3 linked regions of the Homo sapiens genome follow. The protein of the gene in region 2 interacts with the protein of the main gene of each other region in a pairwise test. Each region holds a gene or a part of one and is shown on either strand. Other genes may lie near its edges.

What was found.
Region 1: the proteins of GOSR2 (region 2) and GOLGA8F interact in binary tests that used the Homo sapiens proteins (3 or more experiments, as listed by UniProt).
Region 3: the proteins of GOSR2 (region 2) and TLCD4 interact in binary tests that used the Homo sapiens proteins (3 or more experiments, as listed by UniProt).

Annotation. Positions count from the first base shown.
Region 1 is NC_000015.10:28,387,588-28,392,570, reverse strand, and holds the end of GOLGA8F (golgin subfamily A member 8F), read right to left. Parts: intron 4,970-4,983; coding exon 4,878-4,969; intron 4,304-4,877; coding exon 4,203-4,303; intron 4,121-4,202; coding exon 4,020-4,120; intron 3,931-4,019; coding exon 3,778-3,930; intron 3,693-3,777; coding exon 3,508-3,692; 3' UTR 550-3,507; downstream 1-549.
Region 2 is NC_000017.11:46,917,478-46,926,937, reverse strand, and holds the start of GOSR2 (Golgi SNAP receptor complex member 2), read right to left. Parts: upstream 3,779-9,460; 5' UTR 3,746-3,778; coding exon 3,717-3,745; exon of another isoform or gene 3,306-3,716; intron 1-3,305. UniProt on the Homo sapiens protein: Involved in transport of proteins from the cis/medial-Golgi to the trans-Golgi network.
Region 3 is NC_000001.11:95,140,279-95,148,403, reverse strand, and holds part of TLCD4 (TLC domain-containing protein 4), read right to left. Parts: intron 4,514-8,125; 5' UTR 4,503-4,513; coding exon 4,348-4,502; intron 1-4,347. Other genes in the region: TLCD4-RWDD3 (TMEM56-RWDD3 protein), read right to left, coding at 4,348-4,502.

The DNA.
Region 1 (4,983 bases), on a different chromosome or scaffold from region 2:
ATATCTTCCAGAAATTTAAGGACTCAGCTCTGGTCAAGGTGGCAAAGGGTCTGTTTGTCTTTCCTCGTTAGACAGAGGTCTTGTCCTGCTACCCTAATTGTAAAGGGGTGACTGGGAAGGGGAGATAGGGACAGTGTGGTGGTGGAGACCCCAGCCCCACTTCTCCAGGCTTTGCTGACAGGGGCCTGCTTTTAATTTTAATTTTTATTTTTATCCCATGCCTTTTTTTTTAAATCCCATAACTTCTTTTTCATAACTTTTTTTGGTAACTTTTCATAAAACTTTCTTCTACTTTTTGGTCACAAGATTTTTTTGCCACAACTTTTTTACATTTTTTATCCCATAACTTTTTCACCCCATAACTTTTGTTAATCCCATAACTTTTTTATTTTGTGTTCTTTTAATAAACCCTTGCATAGTTATATTACAATTTTGTAAAAATGAAACATTATCTCATGCCAAGCATGCTCAGCATTTGCACAGTATCAATACCTTTAATACTATATTTTTGAAGACACACAGAATAAAATTTTAAGGCAAAAACAGCACTTTGCAACAACTTAATAATTTATTACATTACAGTAGCATCACACCAGCAGTCAATAATGCCACTTTAGGCAAAAGTCTTTCAGTATTTCCGTTTTACATTCCGCTTACAAGAATTCATAAATTGGTAAAATTCATTCTAAGAAAACTTGGCAAATAAAGCTTTGGACTGGAATTGGCATTTCTTTCTCTACTTTTCCTTCCCACCGTTTATTTCCTTTACAGTATTCATATTTTAAAATGTTTTAACTTATTTCAGAACATTAAGATAGCAGTTACATTGTTTAATAGTTATTTTAAAATGACTGTTTCAGATAAAGTTTTAGAGAAACTATAGTATGGATAGGGCTGATTTACATTTTCAAATTTTCTAAAAATCAGCTTTGGTTTTAGAGCTGATTTTTGTTCATTTCTGGAAAACCTATCAGATTTAATCCAATACTTTAAAAATGATTATTATATATTGCAATCTTTAAATCGGTGATTTGATTCTTCCTACAGAAATTCAAATTTATTGAATTGAACTCACATTTTAGAATTCTGTTTCTGATGAACTCTAACCTTCCAATGTTGCCCTCTAAGCAAATTGAAAGCTGCCTTATACCGAATGAGGAAGAATACCAATACTTGGCTGAATGAGGTATCGCAAAAGACTGCATGCACTTTGAAGAAAGACTTAAGTTATAGTCATGCGATTTCCATTCTTTTTAGCTTTTTCTTAAATATACGACAAATATCTACACAAAGAGTGGTATTTCCGTTAATACAGTCAATTTATTTTCCAGATTGACATTCAGCTTAAATATGCCAGTATGTGATTTAATCCACAGGCACCTGATGAACACATTATTGTCAGATTGGTTACAGATGCTCGTAGTTGTCTTTAAACTGAACTCAAAGAATGCAAAAACATCAAGTTCAGAAAATAAAAGGCAAGGACAGGACTTTAAGTGCATTTTAAAGCCACGGGCGAGAAATCGTACCACTGTTAACTAGCCGCATTATTTGGTCTAACATTTTTTCTTTATCATTCTGAAACTGGGTTTATCTAATACATTGATACATTCATACAATTTGGAAGAGTCCGTTGAAGTCACAAGGACCCGATGTTTGCACTCTTTCAGTGATTGCCGGCAAATCTGTTATTCCATCGGCAAAATCGTACTGCTGCTCTCCTGTTAATGTCGTATTTATAAAAGTATCATGAGGATGCCAAATGCTAAAAATGGAGATGGTCTAGTAACTAGAAATCCCCACCCCAGGGAGCACACATACATATCTCCCTACATCCTAATAATGTGATGTGTTTTGGAACACAGACATTAGAACTTCATGAAGTTTTAACTGTTGAGTCTTTCCCAAGCATCATCAAGTTATGATTTAGGCAATGTACAACTGAAATTCATTCATTCATCATGCATAGGCACAATCACATAAATACTGCACAAAATATGCCCGTAAGTGAAACCCAGAGGTACAGAAACACATTTCACTCTTCACAAAGAAGTTTGTGAGGAAATATAACTCTGTGATTGTATAGACATGTTTCCTGATAATACACTGACATTCACCAACAGTAGATTGCACTGCAGTTTGTACACATTTTAAGTTGCATAAACTTCTCCTTGATTTTCAAAGATAGTATAATACTGTCTACTAAAACTCCTTTTTGTTTCAACTAAGCACTCTCACATATATTAGTTTATAACAATGTTTATTATTATTTCAAAGTGTTTTCCATTCAAGGAAAAGAAGTCAATTCCTATGTCAAAGTAACCAAGGTGGTTGAAGAATAGGCAGAGTGGTCTAGATGGTAAAATCAATCTTCAAGCCTCAAAGAAGCTCCATGAACAGAGGAATGCCAGGTGTCACACAGCTTTCCTTCACTCTAATTCATTCTTGACTAGAGCTTGTATGCCTGTTCCAGGGACATTTGAACTCTTAAAGGATTTCTTATGATCTTTACTAAATACATTAAGAAGAATGCCAACCAGTGCCCTTTTGTGTACTGGGACATGCAGTCATGTGATTAAAACAGGTAACATGAACTCTGACTTTAAAATATAGATACAAATGCTCTAAGCTAGGAAAGGTTTTCCACATCCGTAGTCAATGATGGGAACCTTTCATTCCTCAGAAATAAGCCCTTTTTAGGTCATCAAAAAAGAGTACAACTGCTGAAGCTCATGATGCAATATCTTCATGAGCCCAGAGCACATACAAATCCTAAAGGAACTACAATAGTACAGCACTAATTCTTGGCAACAGAACAAATGAAACACACTCTATCTTGCACATACCTGCCAGAGCAGGCAACTTTCCTCTTCTGTGAAATTTAAAAAGCTCCCCCAAAATGTTATTACTCCCATCACCAATACACAGAAAATGAGGGAAAGGCTGTTTCCAGTTCTCGGCCTTTAAACAACTCTAAATGTCAGTACTCTTGGTGGCATATTACAAAGTATTAAATAGTGCACACTTGGGGCAAACCACATATTGTGCTAATGAAGAGCTCACTGTGATTAAGATTAGATCAAACAACAGCAGAACATAGGCACATTTTATCTGAATTCTGTAATGAATATACATGCTGCAATAACATTAAAAACACATGGCAGCCTATTCCAAACCAGCAAGAATAGTTTTGTGCAAATAGTGGGTCTTTGTGTGTTTGAACTCCCACCACGTAAGGGCAAACTCAATATGCATGCTAATGACCTACAATTATGAAATTGAAAAAGAAAATTGCGAAAGTATGCCAGAGTGAACATCAGTGAAAGCCACAGAGACCCACTCTCTTTTAACTATTTACAAATGAACTTAAACTATAAATTAGAAACACAAATAATCATAAGTGGCTATAACATTCAAATGAAGTAAATGAATTGTGTAGGAGATTAACCCCATAACTTTGTTTCTTTTTTAAAAATTTCTTCAGCAGCTCTTTGACGATGGTGATGTTTATCTCCTTCTTCTTGGCAGCCAAGCCCAGCAAAAGAATGGCACACAGCAGTTGCTGCCCAAGCCTGGGTGCTCCTGGTGGTCCTGCACGATCGGCTGTGCAGTAGGGTTGTCGTGGGGAGAACCCTCCCTGGCCTCTCCTTGCACAGGCTCCACGCTGTCAGTGAGGCTCACCTCACAAAGATCTTTGGAGAGAGGGAGGCGGGGATCTGAGCTCAGTGAGAGCCCCCCTGCTCCTGCCTGCCCACCCCGCCTGAGGGCTCTACTCACCACCATGCTTGTGGGCAGCCCCAAGCTCCTGGGGGGCTGGGGCTCCTGGACTGGGCTCATGAGCAGGGTTCTGGGCAGTCACCAAGAATTTGCTGTGTCCCTTGTAGTCGCCACCAGCTGCAACACCATCTCCTGCAGCTCCAGCAGCTTCACCTGGAGGGAGGGGTGCTCAGCTGTCACGCTGCTGCCAGCGCTCACCGTCACAGCCACCCCCACCCCCGCAGAGATGTTGCACACTCTACCTTCATCTCCTCCCTGTCCAGGGCCAGCCTGATGGTGTCCTCCTCCCGGTGCTGCATCTTTGGCACTGCCCCCTGGCTTTGTTATAGGGTGATAAACTTTCCTGCGGGAGGACAGGGCTCAGACGCTGGGGCCCCTCCAACAGCCCTGCAGCTCCCCCTGCCATGCCCTGGCCTCCCACTCACTGATGGCATCTCTCTCTGTAGTACTGGAAGAATCCAAGTTCTTCTTTCTCCACCAGCTCACTCAGGTCTGCCTTCTCCTCCAGGTGGTCCATAAAGCCGCTCTGGAGCCAAAATAATGGGGTCACATCTCGCCAGCGACCTGCCCTCAGGTGGCATTTTCAAGTCATGGAGAAGGCGGAGGTGAGTTCCGGCATGGGCCAGCTTCTCCGTGACTTCCTGCAGGGCCCGGTGGGTCTCCCCACTCACAGACTCGCCCCCAGGCCCTGGGGCTCCAGGGCCTCTGGCTGCCTCTGGCTCCTTCTGGGCCGAGGCCACCGGGTGAGCCAGGCGCTGGCAGCACACCCTCTGCTCTTTCACCTGCTCTTGTAACTGTGCCTGCTTCTCCTGGGCACTAGCTCCAGCGGACTTGAAAAATGCCACCTGAGGGCAAGATGTGAGCATTCTTGCAGGGGCATACACAGAACAAATGGGGCAGAGAGGTGGAGCGCAGCCCCTTCCCTTGGGGCCCCAGAGACTGCACATGTTGGTCACAGGTGAAATGGTGTCTGACCACTGGCTCCCAGAAGGGGTGAGGGTCCAGAGAAATCAGAAGGCAGGGAAACGAAGAGCATAAAGGGGTCTTGGAGGGACCACAGAGGAAGGAGGCAAAATGGGTTCAGGTGGAGTCAGGCTCACCATGGCCTCCCTGCTCTCCAGGTCCTGTGGGATGCTAGGAATGGGCCGAGGTGCCTCCTCCCCCTCACTGTCCAGATGTCCTCCTCCATCTCCTGGGGGTGGGGGT
Region 2 (9,460 bases):
ACCCAGCAGTTTGAGGAATGTGTCCTAGAGAGGTTCTGGCATACCCTGAGGAGATGTACATGGCAGGACGTTCATCAAAGCACTTTTGTACAGGCCCATAATCCACTGACTTTTCCCATCAAATCTCTATTTGCTTTGAACCAATCAGAGACAATGTGGCCAATAATACAATTCCAGCGGCTACATTTCATGCTAAGAAAACATAAATATGAAACAACAAAGCAAGTATGAATGGCAAGGTGGGAACTACTAATATGCCAAGTGCAAAATCTGTCTCAAACTGAACTGGGAATTCTAACACAACATAACACACTGGAAGTCCATAAGAAACAGGTGATACACAAGCATGACTTGGGAGCGTGGACATGAGGAAAAAGAAGTCTTAGCCCTCTCTAGCATGGGGTCCATGGTGGGCTTGGGTGATAATATAACAAAGCAGAGAAATAGTAGCAAATAAGCCAGGGTCATTGTAGCCGTCTTTAAAAAAGGTTTACAGAAGATCTAGGAAGAATTTTTTAATGGAAGTGCTTTTTAAAAGTTCATGAAACTACTCACCGCCCCCCACCACCCCATAACATCCACTTTGCATCCAGGCTGCCTCTGACCATGATGAACATGAAAACGCTGTGTAACCTACACAGCATCATGTAAGTTTGTTGTTAACTTTACTTAAAAGTAGTGGCAACAATCTGGTCATTTTCATTTCACTCACTTTGCCTTTACATTTCGCTCATTAAAGGGCAAAATCTATAAAGGAAAAACATGGTCTTGAGATAAGGTAATAGTTCTTAAGCTCCGCTGTTCAGGAAAAAAAATGGTCTTGAGATAAGGTAACAGTTCTTAAGCCTACCTGCTCATCAAAACCACCTAGGGAGCTTGTTAAATGTAGTGCTTCTTGTGTCCTGGACATACGATAAGGTCCAGGACAGGAGACTGATCTTGGACTACATAGGGGACAAATGTGGTCACCTTTACAACCATTGGGATCTCAAAAATAGAAGCCTGGCTATTAGCTCCTCTATAAAGTTCATCTAAATTAAACATTTAAGTGTAAAATGTTTATTGTTTTCATTCATTCATTATTTTCATTCATTCATTGTTCAGGTAGGTTCAGGAGTTTTCAAGTAACTTTAATATGTCAATCTAATTCCAATGTACTCAATGTATTCAGTGACACGGCAAGAGATAATCACAAACTGGGTTCAAAGTTCCAGTAAAATTAATAAGTTCAGCTACTGTTGTGTCAACTCAGCTACAATCACTAATTTCTGCAGTTGCGAAAGTTCATTGCTGGTGCTCACTGGACTCCACGTGTTTCTTGTGAAAGTCATTCAGTCATCAGTTCTGTTATCATGGAACTGAAAGGAGCCTTACAGTTTAACCAGCCCAAATTATAATATCATTCTACAGATGAGGAAAAATAAAGTAAGGAGGTCTAGAACCAGAACTCCCACTCCTGGTTCAGCACTGGAGAGGAAAGATAGACAAGATACTGCAGCATAAAAGAAGGTAAACTCCTCGAGGGCAGGGCTGTGCTGCCAGCACTGAGAATGGTGCACAGCACATAGTAGGTGCTCAATAAATATTCAATGAATTAATGAGTGTCGGGGTAGCAGAGGGCCTAATAGTTGTGGGGCAAAGCTGGCCCACTGCTTGTTTTGATAAATAAAATTGTACTGGAACACAGGTACATCAATTAGTTTACATATTGTCTATGGCTGTTTTCCCAATATAACAGCAGAGTAGTAACTACAGAGACCGTATAGCCCACAGAGCCTAAAATATTTACTATCTGGCCCTTAATAGAAAAAACTGGCAAGCTGCTAGAGTCCAAGGGTGCATTGTTGGAGGCCTACAGAGCATCTACACTCCACACACCTTGTTTGGGGTACCATTTAGAATTCCTCTTCTGAGCCATGCAGTTTTCTCTGTGATTAGCTGCACTGAAAACAGGTAGTCTAAGACTCTCTAAATAAAGTTATTCTTGAATATAAAATGGGTCATGGCCTTCTTGGCAACATCCTTTAACTAAATTAACTAGATAAGACCATACATAACAGATTAACTTCAAGGCACTACTATGCCCATTGTGCCCTGCTATTGTGAAAGATAGGCCCTTTCTTAGTAACATGAACATAATTTCGTTTCATTCTTTCTCTAAATTACTCACAGACTAGTTTTAAGTCCCTTCCTATAACGTTTATGTGAGAATAGGGCTCCCCAGTGTAAAAGAAAATTCTGTCATTACAAAGTAGGTTCTGTATTTTCGCCTGTCCAAATGAAACACCTCATCGCCAAAATAAAAGAAACCCATAAACTTAGAAAATGAAAGAGAAAGAGGATCATCACCCTCTTATTCCTCATGCTTCAGGGCATTTCATTTCCAGGCCTTGGGAGTGTGATTTTAAGTGTTTTAATCAACAAAACTACAGCATAAGTTTGAAAGTTCTCAATAGGATAGGTATATACCTCAAAAAATTGAGAAGAGAAACTAAAACAGATACTTCTACACCAGAGTTCATAGCAGTATTATTCTCAACAGCCCAATGGTGGAAACAACTCAAGTGTCCATCAACAGATGAATGGATAACAAAATGTGGTAGACACATAAAACGGAATATTATTCCGTCATAAAACAGAATGAAATTCTGGTAACAGGCTACAATATAGATGAACCCTGAAAACATTAAGTGAAATAAGCCAGATACAAAAGGACAAATTCTGTATGACTCCACTTATATTAAGTATCTAGAATAGGTAAACTCATAGAGAGAAGTAAAACAGAGGTTACTAGGTGTTCTGGAAGGAAGAAATGAAGTGCTACTGATTAACAGGCACACTGGGATGATGAAAAAGTTCTGGAAATGGATCGTAGTGATGTAAGTTGTGAATGTACTCAATGTCACTGAATTGTACACTTAAAAATTGTTAAAACAGTAAATCTTATGTTGTGTATATTTTACAATAAAAAATAAAAATCATAAAATTCCGTCCCTCCAAAACAGGGTAAAAATCATAATTCTGCCCCCCGCCCCCAAAAATAGGGTAAGTATGGCCCCATTAATACTCAACTACGTATCTCAGCAATTCCGAAAGTGCAGGACGATGCGAATAAAGGACACTACCAAGGAATTTAAGTTATGAGAAACTAAATTACAATTTGATTTTCTTAGCGATAACCTGTAACCAGATACGATTAACAAGTAATAATAGTGAATGCTACGTGGACAGCAATTTCTTTGTACCATAAAAATGTGGTCTTTAGTATAAATCGAATAAGAATACAAATACTTTCCCGTACGTGCCCTGACTCTCCAATTAAACAGTACACTCCTACGGCCAGGGGCCGTGTCTCCTACTCCGTGTCTCCTCTCGAGGTCTACCAACCAGGAGCACCGAGTTGACAAGTGCTGGACAAAGTTTTATAACCTGCAGGTGCCAGTTTCCCGTCACCCAGTCTACCCAGCAGGTAGTCACGAACTTGCAGACCCCAGGAGTCATCTGCCCCACGTCTCCAGGCCCCAGCCTGAACCCACTGTCTGTGGCTGACCTGGGAGTCCCGCCAAGGATTAAGCACTTCGGAGGCATCCCCAGCAGTGCCCTGGCGGAAAAACTCGGCCTCTACCCTGGCTGACGTCCGAGGCCTCAGCCCCAGAAGCCAGGCTCACCTGGCCTCGCCTCGTCTAGCCCCTGCCCGCTCCCCGACCGGCCCTCACTTGTGCGTTTGCTGGAACAGGGGATCCATGTCGCCGGCCCCGCAGGCCACGGCTCCGGCTCTGGCTTCCTCGGAACACGTCCTCACAGCCCCCCTTCCGGTTTCCGGCTTCCGGTCGCAGGACCCTCCCTCCCCTGCCGGCCAGGGCTGCCCGCACGCGCGCCTTACTAGCAGTGGTTGCGAGATCGGAGAAGGGGAAGGAGAAATGAGGCCGGCGACGGAAGGATAAGTGTAGTCACAGGCTCGGCTTCACGTGAAGGGCAAGGCGGTGTACATGTTCGCTGAAGGCTAGCCTCAGGATTCAGTCAGGCGTTAGGAAGGACAATCGCGGGATACTAACGAGAGGTCCTCAGAGCAAAGTTGAAGGCGAGCCGCTATCATCTGCTGTTCTCTGCCGCAGAGAGGACTGGAGGTTCTTGCTTGGCTTCACTTTAAACCATTTAATCGGGGGTCTGGAGATTTCGCTCTTCACTGTTTTTCCTGGCGCAAGCTTTTCCTGTTTCGCATTTGTCTACTCACTCTCCCGCCTATCTACCCCCCATTCCTATTTATCCATCCAGTAAACCTACATTGAATGAGTGGTTATTATGTGTCATGTGTAAAGTAGGGAAAACCGGGTTCCTCCTGCCCTCAAAGAGGTTCTGGTCTGGGAAAGGAAATAAGATATGTATACTCTCAAAAGACAAAATTACAAGAAATGTAGTTATAGATTTTTTTTCTTTATTTTATTATTTTTTATTATTATACTTTAAGTTCTAGGGTACATGTGCACAACGTGCAGGGTTGTTACATATGTATACATGTGCCATGTTGGTGTGCTGCACCCATTAACTCGTCATTTACATTAGGTATATCTCCTAATGCTATCCCTTCCCCCTCTCCCCACCCCACAACAGGCCCCGAAGTGTGATGTCCCCCTTCCTGTGTCCAAGTGTTCTCATCGTTCAGTTCCCACCTATGAGTGAGAACATGTAATGTTTGTTTTTTTGTCCTTGCGATAGTTTGCTGAGAATGTTGGTTTCCAGCTTCATCCGTGTCCCTACAAAGGACATGAACTCATCATTTTTTATGGCTGCATAGTATTCCATGGTGTATATATGCCACATTTTCTTAATCCAGTCTGTCATTGTTGGACATTTGGGTTGGTTCCAGGTCTTTGCTATTGTGAATAGTGCTGCAATAAACATACATGTAAATGTGTCTTTATAGCAGCATGATTTATAATCCTTTGGGTATATACCCAGTAATGGGATGGCTGGGTCAAATGGTATTTCTAGTTCTAGATCCCTGAGAAATCTCCACACTGTCTTCCACAATGGTTGAACCAGTTAACAGTCCCACCAACAGTGTAAAAGTGTTCTTATTTCTCCACATCCTCTCCAGCAGCTGTTGTTTCCTGACTTTTTAATGGTCGCCATTCTAACTGGTGTGAGATGGTATCTCATTGTGGTTTTGATTTGCATTTCTCTGATGGCCAGTGATGATGAGCATTTTTTCATGTGTCTGTTGGCTGCATAAATGTCTTCTTTTGAGAAGTGTCTGTTCATATCCTTCGCCCACTTGTTGATGGGGTTGTTTGTTTTTTTCTTGTAAATTTGTTTGAGTTCATTGTAGATTCTGGATATTAGCTCTTTGTCAGATGAGTAGATTGCAAAAATTTTCTCCCATTCTGTAGGTTGCCTGTTCACTCTGATGGTAGTTTCTTTTGCTGTGCAGAAGCTCTTTAGTTTAATTAGATCCCATTTGTCAATTTTGGCTTTCGTTGTCATTGCTTTTGGTGTTTTAGACATGAAGTCCTTGCCCATGCCTATGTCCTGAATGGTATTGCCTAGGTTTTCTTCTAGGGTTTTTATGGTTTTAGGTCTAACATGTAAGTCTTTAATCCATCTTGAATTGATTTTTGTATAAGGTGTAAGGAAGGGATCCAGTTTCAGCTTTCTACATATGGCTAGCTAGTTTTCCCAGCACCATTTCAAAAACGATGGTTAGATCCCACGAAGTAGGTGGTAATGCCTTAACCGTATGCGTGTTGTCAGGCCCAAGGGCCTCTTCCATCCTTGTCAAAGGGAGTGCTAACCTTCTCTCCTTTAATACAACACAGTTACAGATCTTAACTGGCTATTTGCGATTCTAGCACCAGGCAACACCTTATTCTATAAAATAGAATGAGTATTCTGATGAGCTGAGCAGAGGAGATTATCTTTATAGACAGAAAAGGGCTGAAAAAAAAAAGCAGAAACAAAGAACAAGTTTCAAAGTTATTTTACTTGTATTGGTTAAGGCAGAAGGGACTTCCTTTATCATGGGGATATGGCTATTTTCCCTCTCTTCTGATTTCTCCTAAGGTCAGATGAGCAGCTTAATTTTGGCTTTGTGGCTTGGAACTTTAGCATGAGTGACTCTATTTTGGTTTGGCCTGTTGCGCCTAGTGCAGGAGCTCAGTCCAAACCAATGGCTTTCTATGAATTTTATTTATCAAGACAAACATTCTAGAAGGTAGAAAATCCAAAGAGATTGAGCTGAGCTGGGGGTCGTCTCTAGGAGGAGATTTAGGAGAGACTTAATGAAGGGGTGGCATTTGAGCTGGGACTGGGTTTGGACACTTCTCTGTCTCCACATAGGCTATCCCGTTTCCATCCTCCAAGCTTATCTACTATTCCTCCCAAGGCAGGAGACATTCTTTTCTTGGACAAGTTGATACTTCTCTTTTCCTGGATCCTGGATCCCACCCAGTTTTGTGTCCCAAGAGACTGTCCACCCATGTACATTCTTTTCCTAAAATTATTTTTTTCACTTTTTCTATAATTGAGCATCTACAATGTACCATGCACAGATACTGGAGATAGGAACACAAGCAAGACACAGCCCTAAAACCTCCCATATCTCTCATGGTCTGTTGGGAGAACTAATCATACCCTCAAGCTACATTATTAAGTAGAATACATGCTACAATTGATACAAAGTACCATTTCCGTGGGAAGGGCAAGAACGGTTCATGGACAAAATAGCATATGAATAAGACCTTCAAGAATCAATAGAATTTTAACAGTGTCTTGTATATACTAACCACTCTGAAAATGTTTATTGTGTCTGCCTGGTAGAGATGAAGAGGAGGGCATTTGAGGCTGAGGGAATAGCTTGAGCAAAGGCAAACAGAAGGAAAGAACATGAATCTCCTCTGGCTGGATTCAGGGTGTTTGGGGCAATAATAGTAGTCGAAGAAAGGTTAGAACGAGATCATAGGAATTTTTTTTTCTTTCTTTCTTTCTTTTTTTTGAGATGGAGTCTCGCTCTGTTGCTCAGGCTGGAATGCAATGGTGCAATCTTGGTTCACTGCAACCTCCGCCTCCTGGGTTCAAGCAATTCTCCTGCCTCAGCCTCCCGAGTAGCTAGGATTACAGGCACCCACCACCACGCCCAGCTAATTTTTGTATTTTTAGTAGAGACAGGGTTTCACCATGTTGGTCAGGCTGGTCTCGAACTCCCGACCTCAGATGATCCACCCGCTTTGGCCTCCAAAGTGCTGGGGTTACAGGCGTGAGCCACTGCGCCTGGCCAGGAAATCTTAAATGTCAGATTGGGTTTTTCTTTATAGATTTTTATTCTGCGGGTAGTTGGAAGCTATCAGAAAAATCTATCAGAGGATAGTAATGTAAAAAATTTCTCAAATAATTTTCATGCCTATGTCTTGTTTTCCTTTGGGTCTCATGGCATCCCTGGGAGGTGGATAAGGCAGATAAGGAAATTGAAGTCCAGAAGATCTCCCTTCTGCCTCTCAGTCTCTTAAGTCTTTATACGTATTTAGGCCTTCCTCTAAATAGAAGAAAATGCCACTCTCCAGCTTACTGCATTTTTAACTTATATCCCATTTTTTCTTTTTCTTGTATGGCTAAACCACTTGGATAATTGATATATACTGCTGATATTCTCTTGGCATGACTTACCCTCCAGCCTCTCCTTCATTTTACTAGAACGTTTTCTAGGCTCACCAGAGTCCACTTGACTTAGTCCATTGGTCTCCTTCCATAAATCATCCTACATTATAGATTCATTGAGCTGATAACTGTGTGTCAAGCACAATGCAAGGGCTGATATACAAAGATGAGTAAGACACCACCTTACCATAGAAGCTCTTTAATATACTGGGAGGTAAACATCTATACAGATAATTAGAATCCTATGTGGTGAGTGTGGGGTACAGTAATTGGGAACTGTGGGATGACAAGGAGGGAACACTTAGCCCAGTTTGGTGACTCAAGAGAGATTCAAAGAGGAGATGATACCTAAACTGAATCTTGGAAGATAAGGCCAGTGGGGAAAACATCCCAGGAAGAGGAAACAGCGTACACAAAAGCAAAGATATATGATGTGCAGGGGAAACTACAAGCAGTTTGAAGTTACTAGAACATAATGCACAAAAAGACAAAGGACAAGGCCAGAAAGGTAGCTTGTGGCCAAGTCAGTCTAAGGAGCTTGGACTTCATTCTGTAGGAGGGAGGGAGCTGCAGTCCAATGACCCTTGTGGTTCAGGGGGAGCTATTTCATTAGTACTTCATTGGTGAGTAGTGCTCTGGGAAATTGTATGTGTGTGTGTGTGTGTGTGTGTGTGTGTGTGTGTGTGTGTGTCTGCCTGCTATATCTCTATCAGGTTGGTGCAAAAATAATTGTGGTTTTGCAATTACTTTTAATGGCAAACCATAATTACTTTTGCACCAACCTAATACCTACATACCTACCTATTTATCTATCACGTTGACAGGACTGTATCTAGGTTTTGTGGAGCCCCAAGCAAATGTTTTTGTGGGCCCAGTCTGTATATGCAATTTGATTAAAAACTGTGTTATAGGCCGGGGGCGGCGGTTCACGCCTGTAATCCCAGCACTTAGTGAGGCCAAGGTGGGCGGATCACGAGGTCAAGAGATCAAGACCTTCCTGGCCAACATGGTGAAACCTCTTCTCTACTAAAAATACAAAAACTAGCTGGGCATGGTGGCACGTGCCTGTAGTCCCAGCTACTCGGGAGGCTGAGGCAGGAGAATTGCTTGAACCCGGGAGGCGGAGGTTGCGGTGAGCTGAGATCGCGCCGCTGCACTCTAGCCTGGGCGACAGAGCGAGATTCCGTATCAAAAAACAAACAAACAAACAAAACTGTGTTATAAAATTCATGGACTCGTGAAGAATAGTGATTTAACAACAAAGATTTAGAATAATTAGTAGAGAAAAGTACTTAGATATTTGTTTATTGTCTAATAAGTGCATGTGAATATTCTTTACAGTGTTCAGGCACCATCGCTTTCTGTCTGGGTCCAGGAACTATCTCTTTATGTTATTGTCAAATGTGCTATTTCTCACTAGTTTCTGGCTACATGAGAAAAGGGGAACAACATTGTTATTCAAATACCATGACTCTTCAGAACCTGTTTGTATTGGCCTATGTAGCTTTCTTTGCCCCTCCAGTTCCTAATGCTATTTATTTAAAGCTGGTACTGCAGAGAGTCCCCACTAGGGCAACGCCAAGCGGAAATGTGGGATTGGAGCCACCACATAGTCTGCAGTAGGGCAGTGCCTAGTGAAGCAGCGGGAATGGAGCCATCTCCAAGACCACAAAACTGTAGTCCTACCAGTATGCAACTCCAGCCTGGGAACTGTAGGCAGGAGACTCAATCCATCAGAGCTGCTGCATGGACCGAGCCTAGAAAGGCTGTAGAGGTGGGACTGCCCAAAGCTTTGGGGAACCAGCCTCCC
Region 3 (8,125 bases), on a different chromosome or scaffold from region 2:
GCAGCTGACAGACTTTTGTGCAGCCAGATGGCAACTGGCAAGGCCACTACCCTTGGCTCCAAGCTCCAGCCCCAACAGCATCAATGCAGGATAAGTTTCCTGCTCCAATCAGCTGGGAATGACTTCCAGATCTACTGGCTTTAACAAACTCCATATCCTTAAAACAATTCGAATGGATCATGATATGAAGATTTATTATCTTGGGAGGCTTCAGTTTTTAAAGTACGTTGACATGCACTATTGCACTTGATTCTTGTAACAAATTTGTAAGAAAACAAGGGTAGCTATTATTAGTCCCTCTTTATCATTATTATGAAAACATTTCTAAATAGAAAAATTGAGGACCATAAATGTATACGGAAAATTTGTTTTTAAAAGAAATACCCAAGTGAAAGCACAATGTTCTCAAGATCCAGGTCAAGTTTTCTTGTATAGAAGGAATAAGTTTAACATAAAAACCATAAGTTTCTATGAATATATCTTGTTAATAAATTTAATGATGTGACTAATTCCCAAGCTCTATGTTACTTAGAGAACTATACTTAGGATACTGTGTATTCATCCATACAATAAAGTTTTTTTACCCAACAATTTCAGATTTCTCACATCTTTATTGAGAAGTTCACAAGTAATGAAACTTCATTAGGATAAAAAATGAGAGGTACAGCAAAGTTTTCTCTCTAAAAATTACTGGTGTGCAATAAATTTTTCTCTACAATATGATCCCAAATCTTTAAAAGTAAAATATATCAACTAATATTAGGTTTGGTATCAGAAAATTTCATTGTAACTTTAGAAACCAATATACTTGACCTAATAGTGTGTTACAAAATAGATGTATCATGCTAAATCAAGCCATATTTTAAATAAGCAAAGATTCTCACCAATTTAAAGGCATTGACCAAGTATCATTTATAATACCTAAGAATCATTTTGAAATGTGAATAATTAATCCAATTTATCTGGTTTACAAGTCTATAATTTTCATGCCAAGCACACCTTGAGCACAGGATAAAAATGTAAATTCCTTGGCCGGGCATGGTGGCTCACACCTGTAATCCCAGCACTTTGGGAGGCCAAGGTGGGCGGGTCACCTGAGGTCAGGAGTTTGAGACCAGCCTGGTCAACATGGTGAAATTCCATCTCTACCAAAAATACAAAAATTAGCTGGGTATGGTGGTACACACCTGTAATCCCAGCTACTCGGGAGGCTGAGGCACAAGAATCACTTGAACCTGGGAGGCAAAGGTTTCAGTGAGTGGAGATTGCACCACTGTACTCCAGCCTGGGCAACAGAGCGACACTCTGTCTCAAAAAAAAAAAAAAATTAAATTCCTTGATATAAAATAAAATACTCCATTTAAATGGTCATACAGCCCACTCTCTATTGCTATTCAAAAATTATATAAAATTTAAAAATATATAATCTCTCTTACAAACTTGTTTTACTGTTTGGTAACCATAGTCAGAAAGCTCCCTTTTGAAAAACCTAACTTTTTATTTCTGACACTCAGGCCTCAGATTCACTTCTCTTTTGAGATGTTATGTGGTAAATGGAAAGCATTCTAAGCCCTCAGCTGATGGAAATGGTGTATGATTCAGTACAGAAAAGTTAAATATTACTTGGTCCAATCAAATATCTCCCTCTGTAATGAGGAGGAAAAACAAATACCCTGCCCTCACTCATACACTATTCTGTATTAAAAGTCTATACTATAGTTTCAGAAACTTCTGTTAATAAAAATTTTATATTTTATTATTTAAAATCAGATTCCTAGCAAAGGAAAATTTAGATTCCTTAGTATCTAAAAAGAAATTCCAAGATATTACCCAAGATAAAATATTTCAATTTTTTTTCAAAGAGGGTGGAAAAGAAATGTTTGTGCATATAAAGGGATAGCACTCTAAGGAAATGATTAATGACTATTTTAGAATAGCAATTTTAAGTTACTAATCACAAGTAGTGTAAATATTGCCAACAGAAATTATATAACTCAGCTAAATTTTAGAGAAACATTTAAAAATTAGTAGTATTTCAACACAATAAGACTTTCAATGTGATAGGTAAGAAAGTGAATATAAGTAATTAAGAAAATTTTTTTACATTATAAGATGTAGCACCTGTAAGTATACACGTTTTCAGAAAAAGTAACAATTCAGTACAACAATTTCTCACTTTTAACTAAACTGTTGTCTCTCAAATGGGCATTTCCAGTGATTTTTTCTCCTCCATTTCTTTTTATACTAGATGGCTCAGACCACTCTCAACTCATGTTTAGAGACTCTTTCCTGATCACTAGAAAGAATTATGTGTGTTTACCTGTATGTTTCAAACTGGAAGCTGAATTTTAAGACATTTATACATATTTTACTCAAAATACAGCCTCCTTGTCCTACTTTGCACTCTCCACCTTACAGCTTAAGTCCTTTGTAAAAAAAGCTGGAGTGAGAAGCAGGAGCAAACTTGAGAAAAAGAGAAAACACCACTGAATACCTAAATGAATTTTATATAATCCCAGACTCCTTTTTCAAATAGAAATTCAGTTTCCCAAATGGTATTTCCTGTGTCATAGAATGGCAGTGATAAGACTAGATAATGCAAAATATTCTTCAATTTCATTTCATTTTCATCTTGGCTTCCATCTCTCTGTACCCTTTCCTATTTCTCTGACTTGCAGCTACCTAACATTCAAATGCCTTTACCTATCCTAACCACAGGAAAGAGGAAATGAAAATAGTTCAACATTTAATCAGAGAACGTATGTACCCCCTTCTCTTTCCTACCATTCCATCTATCTTCATATGTTAGAAAAGATTTTTTAAAGTAATGGTATCTCTAGTATAATGCATTTGAACAATATTTTTGTGCTAGTCTTAAGACAAAATAATCATACTGCTTATTTTTTGAAAATATGTGGAGAAATAATTCTTGCTTTTTGGGTGAAAAGAACTTTGACATGTATGAACCCGATACATCACTGTAAAGTACAAAAAAAAACAACTAGAGTCTTATTAAATTCACAGTCTGAATCATAAAAGTAGATGCCTGCAAAACAATTTGGTTCAAAGGGAATTTCAAATCAAATATGACCATTCTCAAATAAATACTCAGACACTGACAGAATTTCTTGAATTTTAAAAGGAAATTTCAATGAAAGATAATTATAGCAAACTTTAGAGACTTGCTGAATCCATTTTATGGTTAGTATTAACTTCAACTAAATAGCAACAACAAAAAATAAGGCCACGGCTGCTCTGACTCACTGAGGTTTACAAATGCACAGTGATGTTTGGGGACATAAAATGCTCTAAAGCACGTGAAGAAGTCATCAGAGCCATTTTGTGTTTGAAATCTTGTGAGATTAATAAGTTGTACACACACAAAAAAATTGCAACCAACTTTTTAAAACTCTGGCAGGGTGCAGTGGCTCATGCCTGTAATCCCAGCACTTTGGGAGGGCAAGGTGGGTGGATCACCTGAGGTCAGGAGTTCAAGACCAGCCTGGCCAACCTAGTGAAACCCTGTCTCTACTAAAAACACAAAAATTAGCTTGGCATGGTGGCGCATGCCTGTAATCCCAGCTACTCAGGAAGCTGAGGCAGGAGAATCACTGGAACCTGGGAGGCAGAGGTTGCAGCGAGCCAAGATTTCACCACTGCACTCCAGCCTGGGCGACAGAACGGGACTCTGTCTCAAAAAAATAAATAAACAAATAAAATAAAAATAAAAAATAAAACTCCAGCAGATTTCTATATCAATAGATGTCTAATTCTTTCTCCATTTACTTTTCTGTTTAAAAAAAAAAAACTAAAAAGAAATTTTTACTTTAAAATTATATAACAAAATAATAAATGCTGGAGGGCTCTAAATTATAATGCAAAGTTCATTAAAAGATTCATATGCACTGACTGTACACTTTGTTCCCTGATGTGTAGAGTCTAACTGCCCCAGGTCTGGCTAAGTTGGCCAATGCTGTATGGTATAAGCTACTCAAAAGTACAACTAATTTTTTCTTCCATCTTTGTTTCCAAAGAATATGTTTGTTATAAATATTTCAAAGAAGAACACGAAAGTACTAGTATTCATCCACAGTCAGCTGGAGTCTACTTCATCTTCACACACTTCCTCAGAAACTTAAGTAAATTTCTCCTAACATCTTTCAATATATGAATTCTTAAACTTTTTTTTGCATGAGATCATCTACTTGTTTTTCCTTTTATTTCTAAGATCAAATAAAAATTTGGCCTTACATTAGATCCTAAATGAAATACTTTTTTGAAATATTTTAAATAATTTTATCTCATAAACTAGTTTCTTGTCATCAATTACATTTTCATATGCTTTACCTTGAGTTCCATTCAATCTTCTTTTTGAAGCTGAGACTATTGAAACCTGGAGAAACTTTTGCTGAAAACCAGTAACTTACAAAGTAGAAAAGAAGCTGAAAGGTGAAAAAGCTGATACAGGTAACACTGATGAGCAGTTTTGTGTTGATCTCCATATTTCTTCAACCTGTTAAGATAAATGACAGCTATAAATTGTTGTCTCATAATAAACCTAGAGTAATTTTTTTATTTTAAGAAATATGTCTTGTAATTTTAGTAATTTTTAAAATTTAGAACAAATGTTAAGAATATAAACTATAAGAATTTTTGACCTTTTGTATATTTCTTCACCTTTACCATCTATTTGTCATGTATCTTATGTCTGTTTTATCTTAAAGATCTCAATATTAGAGGTGTCATTTATAATTTTAACATCATGATATTCAAAATTATCTAAGTCTTAATATTAACAGAGAATTTCAAGTACTATAAGTAAAAACTATTCTTCTAATAATATTTCAATTAAATTTATGACAAATCGATTTCTTTATCCCTCAATTTCTCATCTATGATATGAAAGAGTTGGTTACATAATTTCTAAGAAACAATCAAGCCAAAAACCATAGAACTAACACTGCCTGTAATAACAAAACAAAAAATAATTCCATAATTAAAAAACTAATTTTGGAGCAGGACAAACAACATTTAAAACAAAATTAAAATCTTAAGAAGAACACAGTCTTAGCAAAGAGCCATTGCACTGTTGAGGCAAGACAATAGGGTCTGGAGGCAGGGAACCTAAGGCCGATTCATACTGACTTCCTAGAACTAAATCAAACAGAAAAGCCCAACTTTACACACCTAACTAACAAAATAACTGGAGGTTACTCGCTTTGAAAACCCCTCCCTCACTTTTCTGAGTGGCAAATGGAAAACTGAAAGTACCTCTGATTGGTTGCTTTCCGCAACCAATCAGACGTTTACATAGGAGTATAACTTTATAACTTCATTTCAGCCTCTGATTGGTTGCTTTCCCCAACCAATCTGACTGACTGCCAGCCAAGTCTTCCTTTGCACAGAAGTGTAACTTCCCCTCCCCTCCGCCACGCCCCCAACCCCGCCTCCAGATGGAGTCTTGCTGTGTCCCCCAGGCTAGAGTGCAGTGGTGCGATAGATCTCAGCTCACTGCAACCTCCGCCTCCCGGATTCAAGCAATTCTGCTGCCTCATCATCGCGAGCGGCTGGGATTACAGGCACGCACCACCACACTCGGTTAATTTTTGTATTTTTAGTAGAGACGGGGTTTCACCATGTTGGCCAGACTGGTCTTGAACTCCTGACCTCGTGATCTGCCCACCTCAGCCTCCTAAAGTGCTGGGATTACAGGCGTGAGGCACCACAACCGGCCTAGATTGTGGGCCACTACTTCATTTGCATGGGGTGTACAACAAGTGGCCAATGGGAAACCTGTAGCAGGTATTTAAGCCCTAGAAAATTCTGTAACCGGGCTCTTGAGCCCCTATGGTAGGACCAACTCCCACCCTGTGGAGTGTACTTTCATTTTTAATAAATCGCTACTTTCATTGCTTCATTCCTTCCTTGCTTTGTGCATTTTGTCTAATTCTTTGTTCAAAATGCCAAGAACCTGAACACCCTCCACCGCTAACACCGTCACTGCACAAATGAGAATTTAACTTTTAAAACATGCTCTTCAATCACACACATTCTTGGAGCAAAAGGCCTGCAGGGCTTTGTATCCCTTATTAAAAAAAAAAAAAAAAAAAAAGATTTTTATAAAAGAGCTTCAGGTCTTAACAATCGAGTTAGCAGAAAGAATAGTACTATGCATATATGCACACTCAAAGTGTGTTTTCTATTTCATTGAGCTGAACTTTATTTGGCTCCTAAAAATCTTAGGAACATTCAGAGCAAAAAAAAAAAAAAAAAGGCACTAAGGCATTTGCTCATATCCAGCAAATACAGCATTTCTATGGCTCCATCTTTGATAAAGCTGATTCTCAAATGAAAAAGAAATAAATCAATACACATTTCCAGCTGCCTAATGCAAAGAAATAAAGTCACCTACTGAAATCAATTCACCAGAGAAAAGCCAAGTCATTGACTGCACTAGCAATAACCCCACTTCATTCCCTTCCAACCAGGATATCGTAATAAGAATCAATCTCCCACAGGGCCCCTTCCATCAGAATTCATATGTCTATAATGAATTCTTTCCTCATTCTTTGTGTGTGTGTGTGTGTGTGTGTGTGTGTGTGTGTGTGTGTACTTGGTAAAAATATTGATATTACAATTCTTCTCTATGAGACTCCATTAACTTTACTGCTCTTTTACTTCTTTTTAATTCAACATATGTTTATTGGGTATTAAAATTTTAATTTGTGGTCTTTTAGCCTAGGTTTAATATTAACCAAACAATACATAAAAGTTTTGTACATAAATTAAGCATTACCATAATTTGCTAAGTGGGATGTAAGGAGAATAATGCTTTTCTAAGATTAAAGCAAATAGGTATCTGGAGGCCAGATGGACACAAAATTGGAAAAAAAATATAATCAGTAATCAGAAGAGAATGGAGAATCTAATCTTAAATGTGAGGAGGTTTCCCCTGAAGACTTTCGTATGCTCTCTGCTGATCCTAGAGCAGAAGGTGGGCACGGGCTGCTCATTTAGTTTGTTAAAATTCAATGTATACAAAGCATTTATTTCATGAATGTTAAAAGGTGTCATAAAACATATCATACCTTATCCATTTTATGAATTGTTCATTTAACTACTGTATTTAAAAGCACTCAAACAATTCACCATTAAAAAATGTATCATCCCACCCTCGCCCAAAAATCGAGTTTTTAAGTCTTTGTTCTAATGGATGAATATTATATTTTGAACAGAATTATTATCAGGTAAGACTTTGGGATATATGTTTAGAGTCTCCCTTTGGAAAAATGTTTCATTTAAAACTAAATAAAGAGCTCCATATATTCAAGCTGTGACTTCCATTAAAAGCTCAACAGATAGAAGCCAATTAAATTGTTCTACTCTCAGCTTTGCCTCTTAGTGAACAGCTGCTTGCTTAATCAGTCATGCCAAATCAAGAACTAATCTAGAGATCTTTACAAATTTCCCCAGAAAACCAAGGCTTCTGGTAGGAAGCAGCTACCCCTGTTCATTCACTTTAATGCATGAATCAGGCAAGAAAAATGGTAAAAAGTGATAAAACCAAAGGATGCTCATTACTAACATATGTTAAGGGCCTGCAAGAGTTTGGTGATTATTAAGTATAGGAATATACAGTAAAACTGGAAAAGCACACCTACTTCATATACCTCTACAGGTAGCTAGTAGCTGGCAGAAAGCTGGGATACTATTTGGCCTAGCGAAGAGCAGCTGAAACAGATAAGGGAAATACTTCTGTAGCAATTTACAAGAGCGTCTAGACATGAACTCTACATTATAATTAGTCCATCTTGATTCACAGGAATTGTGGACATCAAAGAAACTTTTCCAGAGACCTGTTGAATGAAATAATGTTTATACTTTTCATTAAAGATGGTTTACATAAACTTTAATTGACACTGATTTCTTAGTAGGGAAAAACATGAAAAGGTCTGAAGTACAGTCATGCACTGCATAACGATGTTTCAGTCAATGACAGACCACATATACAATGGTGGTCTCATAAGATTATAATGGAGCTGAAAATTCCTATCACCTAGAGACGCTGTAGCCATCATAACACCGCAGCGCAACACATTACTCACGTGTTTGAGGTGATGCTGGT